Regions from separate parts of the Homo sapiens genome. Here region 1 is linked to region 2. The links come from fine-mapping of genetic effects on gene expression. A gene starts in region 2. The other region holds a variant in brackets. All regions are shown on one strand. Distances are from middle to middle.

Region 1 (2,912 bases), 36 kb after region 2:
GTGAGTGACAGGCCTTTGTGCCCTCAGCTTGGACAGCCTCGGGTGGGGTTGCTTGGGGTAACCCGGGTGAATCAGGCAGCAGGACTGGGGGAGTCCGTGCTGAAACCTTGGCTCCCAGGCTCCAGGTGTAACCTGCCCACCTCAGAGGCCACCCACGCAGTAACAGAGGGCAGGGGAGGCCTCCTTGGAAAGCAGGAAAACTGGGGAAGTGTCAGGAAGTTCTCTTTAGGTTTGCTGCCTTTGTCTATGCACCACTGTTTGCATCAGCCTCATTTCTCTGCCTGTGACCTAAAAGGATGGCACTGTGACCTGGGAAACCCATCCAGCTTTGTATCCCAAGTGACGGCTCTGTCCACATTTGTGCCCCTACACGCGTTAGCACGCCTGTATGCTGTGGCCACTGACCTCGCGGTGCTCGTGGTGAGGCTGGTGTGGCGCCCTGCTCTCAGCCCGAGGTCACTGCCTGTCCTGAGATGGCTGCTCCCTGACGCACCCGACTTGAGTCTTCCAAGCCCCCTTCCAGGTTGCTCTACGCTCACATTGCACAGAAGCATGACTTGTGCACAAAGGGCCATGGTGCACACGCCGGGAGCTCTTAAACATGAGAGTCGGCTGTCCACTCGTATGGCTGACGGGGGTGGCAGAAGAGGCGCCAGGGGCTGATGCTGTGACCCCTGCGCTCTCCCCTAGTTGGTGTACATGGGTTTTGATGCACTCGTGGCCGAAGCTGCGCTGAGAGTGTTCAGAGGCAACGTCCAGCTGGCCGCCCAGACCCTTGCTCACAACGGAGGAAGCCTGCCTCCCGAGCTGCCGCTGTCGCCAGAAGACTCTTTGTCCCCGCCAGCCACGTCCCCTTCTGACTCCGCAGGTAGGTCTGAGGTCTTTGAGGGCCGCATTGAGAGCAAAGTGTCTTCAGAAGCCAACAGATGTGGCCCTAAGCCACGGCAGATGTGGAGACTGAGGGGGCGTCCCCTGACGTCACCGGGCCGGCCACCTGGACAGTGTGGCCAGCAAGAGGCACAGTCTGAGGTTGACTGTGGTCGTGCAGTGTCCCCAGGACAATCCTCACATAATTCACTTACTCCTGCGGTATTTTATTGTAGGAACCTCTAGTGCCTCAACAGACGAAGACATGGAGACAGAGGCCGTCAATGAGATACTGGAAGACATTCCAGAGCATGAGGAAGACTATCTTGACTCAACTCTGGAAGATGAAGAAATTATTATTGCAGAGTACCTATCCTATGTAGAAAATAGGAAGTCAGCAACAAAGAAAAACTAAATAATGAACAGAAATAGCGCTAATTTTCTGCTTATAAATGCTATCATTATGAAAAGGCTAATGCAGCTCTTTCTGTTCTTACTTTTTATCTGAATTACAAGTCCTCTTTGGGTGTAGGAGGGGGTGGGCAGGGGACAAGTCCAGGAGGGGTCCCAGGGCCTTCATGC[G/A]TGGTCTCGGGGAAGAAGCTTCCTCTGGCCTGGCGCAGGCCGTTCCATCTGCCTCCCAGGTCTGCGTCCCTAACCCCTTCCCCAGCTTGGTGTTTTACCCCGAAACAGGAAGGAACAGGGGTCCTGTAGAACAGGGGTCCTGGGGAAGGTGTCCAGGGCAGGGTCCTGGGAAGGGTGTCCCGACCGCTTCCTCTCCAGCTGTGGCTCCATCTGCCCAGCTTGCCTGCCTCCTGCACCCACTGCCCTGACCTTCCTGCTTCCCACGCTGCCATCTCTGCCAGGGTGCCACATGGGTTCCTGTGCCACCCTTTCCCCGCCCCTCAAATCGTCCTTTAAGTCTTCCTTCCAAGTGCTGTGGGGCATAACGATGAGGCGCTGGCCTTGGGGGCCACACCAGGTCGCAGCAAATGGCTTCAGCCTGGGACGCCAGTGTTTTATGCTCTTAGTTCAGTAAAATACGCCCCCGAAATTCAAGATTGAGTGTCAGGCTTTATATATATTCAGCATTCCTCATTACAGAAATCTTCTATTGAATGGGAAAGGTTTAAATGCTAACCAAAGCAATTTATTTTTAATTAATATTTTTAGACTCTGTGCTGTCATACTGAACTCACTGCTAGCTAAGAGACCTATCAGAGATTTAGATATATTTTCTCCAGGTTTTTTGTGGGTTTTCTTTGTTGTTGTTGTTGTTCTAGCCATGTGACAGAGGCTCTTTCTAAAAGTATGTAGTTCGCTGTGTGTCGGCTCCAGCAGTAACCGTCCTCACTGCGCCACGCACTCCTCTGTAGATGTGTGCCCAGTGGGAGTTCCTTCCAGCCCCAGGACCACAGCAGCAGCCAGGTGCCGAGTGGATTGAGTGCCAGGTGCATCCAAGACTTTCCCTCCCTTCCAGAAGGCACTGACTGAAGACAGGATGGATCATGCGGAGCCGGCTGAAATGCTCCAACTTTTTCAAAGTGTGGGTGGTCCAGTTTGGACTGATGGGAATCTTCTTGTCATTCTTTTTAAACGGATGATACCGATGGAAATAAAAGGTGGGAAATATATTCAAAAATTGTCACCCTAATTTTGCATTAATTTACTCAGCCTCCCCAGCTGTAGGTGTTGAAAGTGTCTGGGTGACTAGCTCTTCATTTTGATTGCAGGATGTCTGTTTCCACTGAGTTTTGTGAGGAGATGATGGAAGGATGATCTCAGAAGCAGAGGGCATCTGCTGTGAAAGATGCCGCACGCCAAGCGGGGCTGGGGTGCATCCTGGGCAGGGGACTGAAATGTACCTGTCAGGGTTTGCCTCAGAAGTGCCTGGTGAGCTGAGGTGACGCGGAGTCTCAGCCTCATTTGACACAATGCCACACTTGGATTTGGGGCCTGAATTTAAGCTTTTGGCTAACAAATCGCTGTCCTGCGCTTGGTTCAGGCGTGTCTTCTAGCTTCCCAGCTGTTTTTAGCCATCATAGAAG
Region 2 (2,912 bases):
AGCTTTCACTGCCTTCAAACAGATGTTTTCTGACTTCGCTTTCTGGCTTTTCTAGTTGTTGTTAGTGGGAGCCTTGGTCTACTGCAAGCTGCTCCATCACACCTGAGCGTGGACATTCAATTTCCTGATGGTCTACTACGTAAATGTAAAAGTGAAACTATCTTTGTTACTCATCTCAGAGAAAGCCCTCAGAAAAAAATGTCAGAACAGTTTCTGTTGTCCTTCTACCTTGCTGCAATTGCTACTGAGCAATCAACGGGCTTTTTCCTGATGTGCTAGAAGCCAACACCATGGCACGGGCTTTTGAGAAAAGAAAGGCTTTATTGTGAGTTGACTGTCAAGGAGACATGAGGAAACCCTCAGCTCTGTCTCCTTGAGCTTGGGGCTGGGTTGGGTTTTATAAGCATAGGGTAATGACGCATGATCGGATTAGATTTTGCGATGAGGTGATGCTGGGATGCTCATCTGACTGGACCCTGCCATGGGGTGACACCAGGGCTTGATCTGATTGCATTCTGGATCTCACCATGCAGTGCCCATTTCTTAATTCAGTCCCTGCTTTGATCTGAGCACTCAGGTTCCGCCCCTGGTTGCATGCTTGGTTCACCTGGGCATCCTCAGGTTACGTGCGAAACCTTCCATCTGGGAGTCCATGCAACTGAAAAACAACTCACAACTTGGGTATATAAAAGGCGAATCAGATTGGTCTGGTGCGGTTATACAGTTATTAATATCCCTTTGTCAGAAGTCAAAATTACCACAAATTTAGATTAAAGATCTATTGGTTTTTATTGATTCATGAATCAGGATGGCATCTTCTCTGAAAATTTAGAAACGGTGCTCCAACGAGCTGGGCAGAGGAGGTGGGCTTTATAGGTAGAAAAGGGCTAAAGAAAGCAGCAACAGGGAACGAAAAACGGATTGGTCACTGCAAGGTTACAGGAGTCCCCTCTCGTCCACACACAGGTGGTGTGTCCCAAGACCCACAGTGGATGCCTGAAACCTCGGATAGTACTGCACCCCATTTTACATACACACACATATATATATACTATATATATACACACACTTCATTTTTCCTATACATACGTACATACCTACGATAAAGTTTAATTTATTAGGCACAGTAAGAGATTAACAGCAATAACTGATAATAAAATAGAAGCGTCACTGTTGAGCACAGCCTTGGGAATAGGACCTTGGAAGTAGGCAGAGCTCCCTAGGCCTTGTGGTCCCTAGTGGCCGTGGACAGCATGGGGGAGGAAATTCCCGGGAAGCAGCCTAATTTCACCCCAGGGAAGCCCCTGGTGGGCTTGTGGAGGGCGGGGTGAAAAGCCGCTGGTTTAGGGAAGGGGTCCAGCCTAGGCTGAGGAATGAGATGCGGGTTGGGACGGTCCCGACCCTTCCCCCAGCCTCTTTCAAGGATTCTGGAGAAACAAAGCCAGGATCCATTTCCTCTTGATGGCTGGCAAACTGAGCCCGGGCGGGAAGTCCTGGAAGACTGAGCCTGGGGTGGCGTTGGACACCAACTCCCAGGTCCTCGCCCCACACGGCCACATCCTCGCCCAGCCCCGCCTCCGCTTAGCTCCGCCCCGTCGCGGCTCCGCCCCGCGGTAACCACGCCCACACAACCGTATCCCCGCCCACAGCTGGCTTCGCCTTGGCCCCGCCCACAACCCTCTTTCCAAGCGGCGGCGGCGGCGGCGGCGCGAAGGCGACAGCGGCGGCGGGGGCGGGGCTGGCCTCACCCGGAATGAAAACAAACGGCGGCCGCTGCCGCATCCGGGCACTCTGCTGGTCGCGGCGGGAGTGGCGTGGCGCAGGTGAGGACACGGCGGCCGAGTGTCCTCGACCCCAGCCTCAGCAGCACTGCTTGGCGCCCCGGTTCCCGGTCCGACTGGGCACCTCTCCTGGCCAGGGGTGGAGCGGCCGCGGGGCGGGGGTGAGCAGCCATGCGTGGAGCTGGGCCGGGGCCGGGGCCGGGGCCGGGAGCGGTGGGCCGGGCTTCGGGACGCGCTGGCCGTTCGGGGCCCTTTGGTTTGCCCTGAGTTAGGCAGAGGTGTGGGGTATTTAAAAGAAAATATTGAGTGTATCGGTTTGGGGAGAGAAAGGAATAAATATGTCTATAAAAAATTAGCCAAATGCTATACTTGAATCGTAACACTCCGAGTATACCATTTGGGATTTATTTGCAATCAAAGCCAGATTTTCTTTGCTATTTAATGACAAGACACTTGATTTTCTCGAACCTTGACGACCTGATTCTATCATTCTCACCTCCTTCCCTTTTATTTTTAATCAAGAATCTTTCATTTTCCTAAGAAAAAATGAATGTGTCTTGACTAGATATAGTTGTGTTTCAACTATATATAATGTATACTTGAAAAGGTGTGGCTAAATGTAGCAATGATCGATTCATTACAAAAGTGAAAGTGAAATTTTTAAAGGATCGTTATAACGTTTCACTTTCTGCTTGGACCACGGAGTGATATTAATGAGTTTCGTCTTTTCTTAGTTACAATGTGAAACATTGTATGGCATGCATGAAACTTTTTCAGTTCTCATTTCAGTTAAAATTAAAAACTGACTTATTAAACTTGACTTAAAATATGTCGCCACTTACTCTGTTGTCTATAACTGAAGTTCCTTAAGTTTCAAGACAGTGGTTTAATTTTTTTTTAACATTAAATCTTATTCGGTGTAACCCTGGAGCTCTTGTTTGCTCCCTGGAGTGTCTGACACGCACTGGGTTTGTAACACTCCTTCGTCCTTCTGTCAAGTGGTGGCTTGGATGGCATCTTTTTAAAAATTTTTTATTTGTTTATTTTTTTAGTAGAGACGGGGTTTCACCATGTTGACCAGGCTGGTCTTGAACTCCTGACCTCAGGTGATCCACTGGCCTCGGCCTCCCA

What was found. PIP is the estimated chance that this variant, and not a neighbour inherited with it, causes the effect. A credible set is the group of variants that fine-mapping cannot tell apart.
Region 1: its variant is the best candidate, but not a certain one, in a credible set for the expression of NUB1 in skeletal muscle (GTEx, PIP 0.56).

What each region holds. Positions count from the first base shown.
Region 1 is chr7:151,375,944-151,378,855 of GRCh38, forward strand. NUB1 (negative regulator of ubiquitin like proteins 1) reads left to right here. Exons shown (of 15, transcript NM_001243351.2): 14 at 691-868; 15 at 1,104-2,506. The coding sequence ends at 1,282. It also overlaps a transcript of WDR86 not described here. Among named protein-coding and RNA genes, the nearest start is that of WDR86-AS1, 32 kb to the right of the region's middle. The variant G/A (reference allele first, on the strand shown) is at 1,450.
Region 2 is chr7:151,340,024-151,342,935 of GRCh38, forward strand. NUB1 (negative regulator of ubiquitin like proteins 1) reads left to right here and starts at 1,789. Exons shown (of 15, transcript NM_001243351.2): 1 at 1,789-1,823. RefSeq lists enhancers at 61-120, 251-340, 1,410-1,911 and silencers at 1,509-1,708, 1,879-2,058.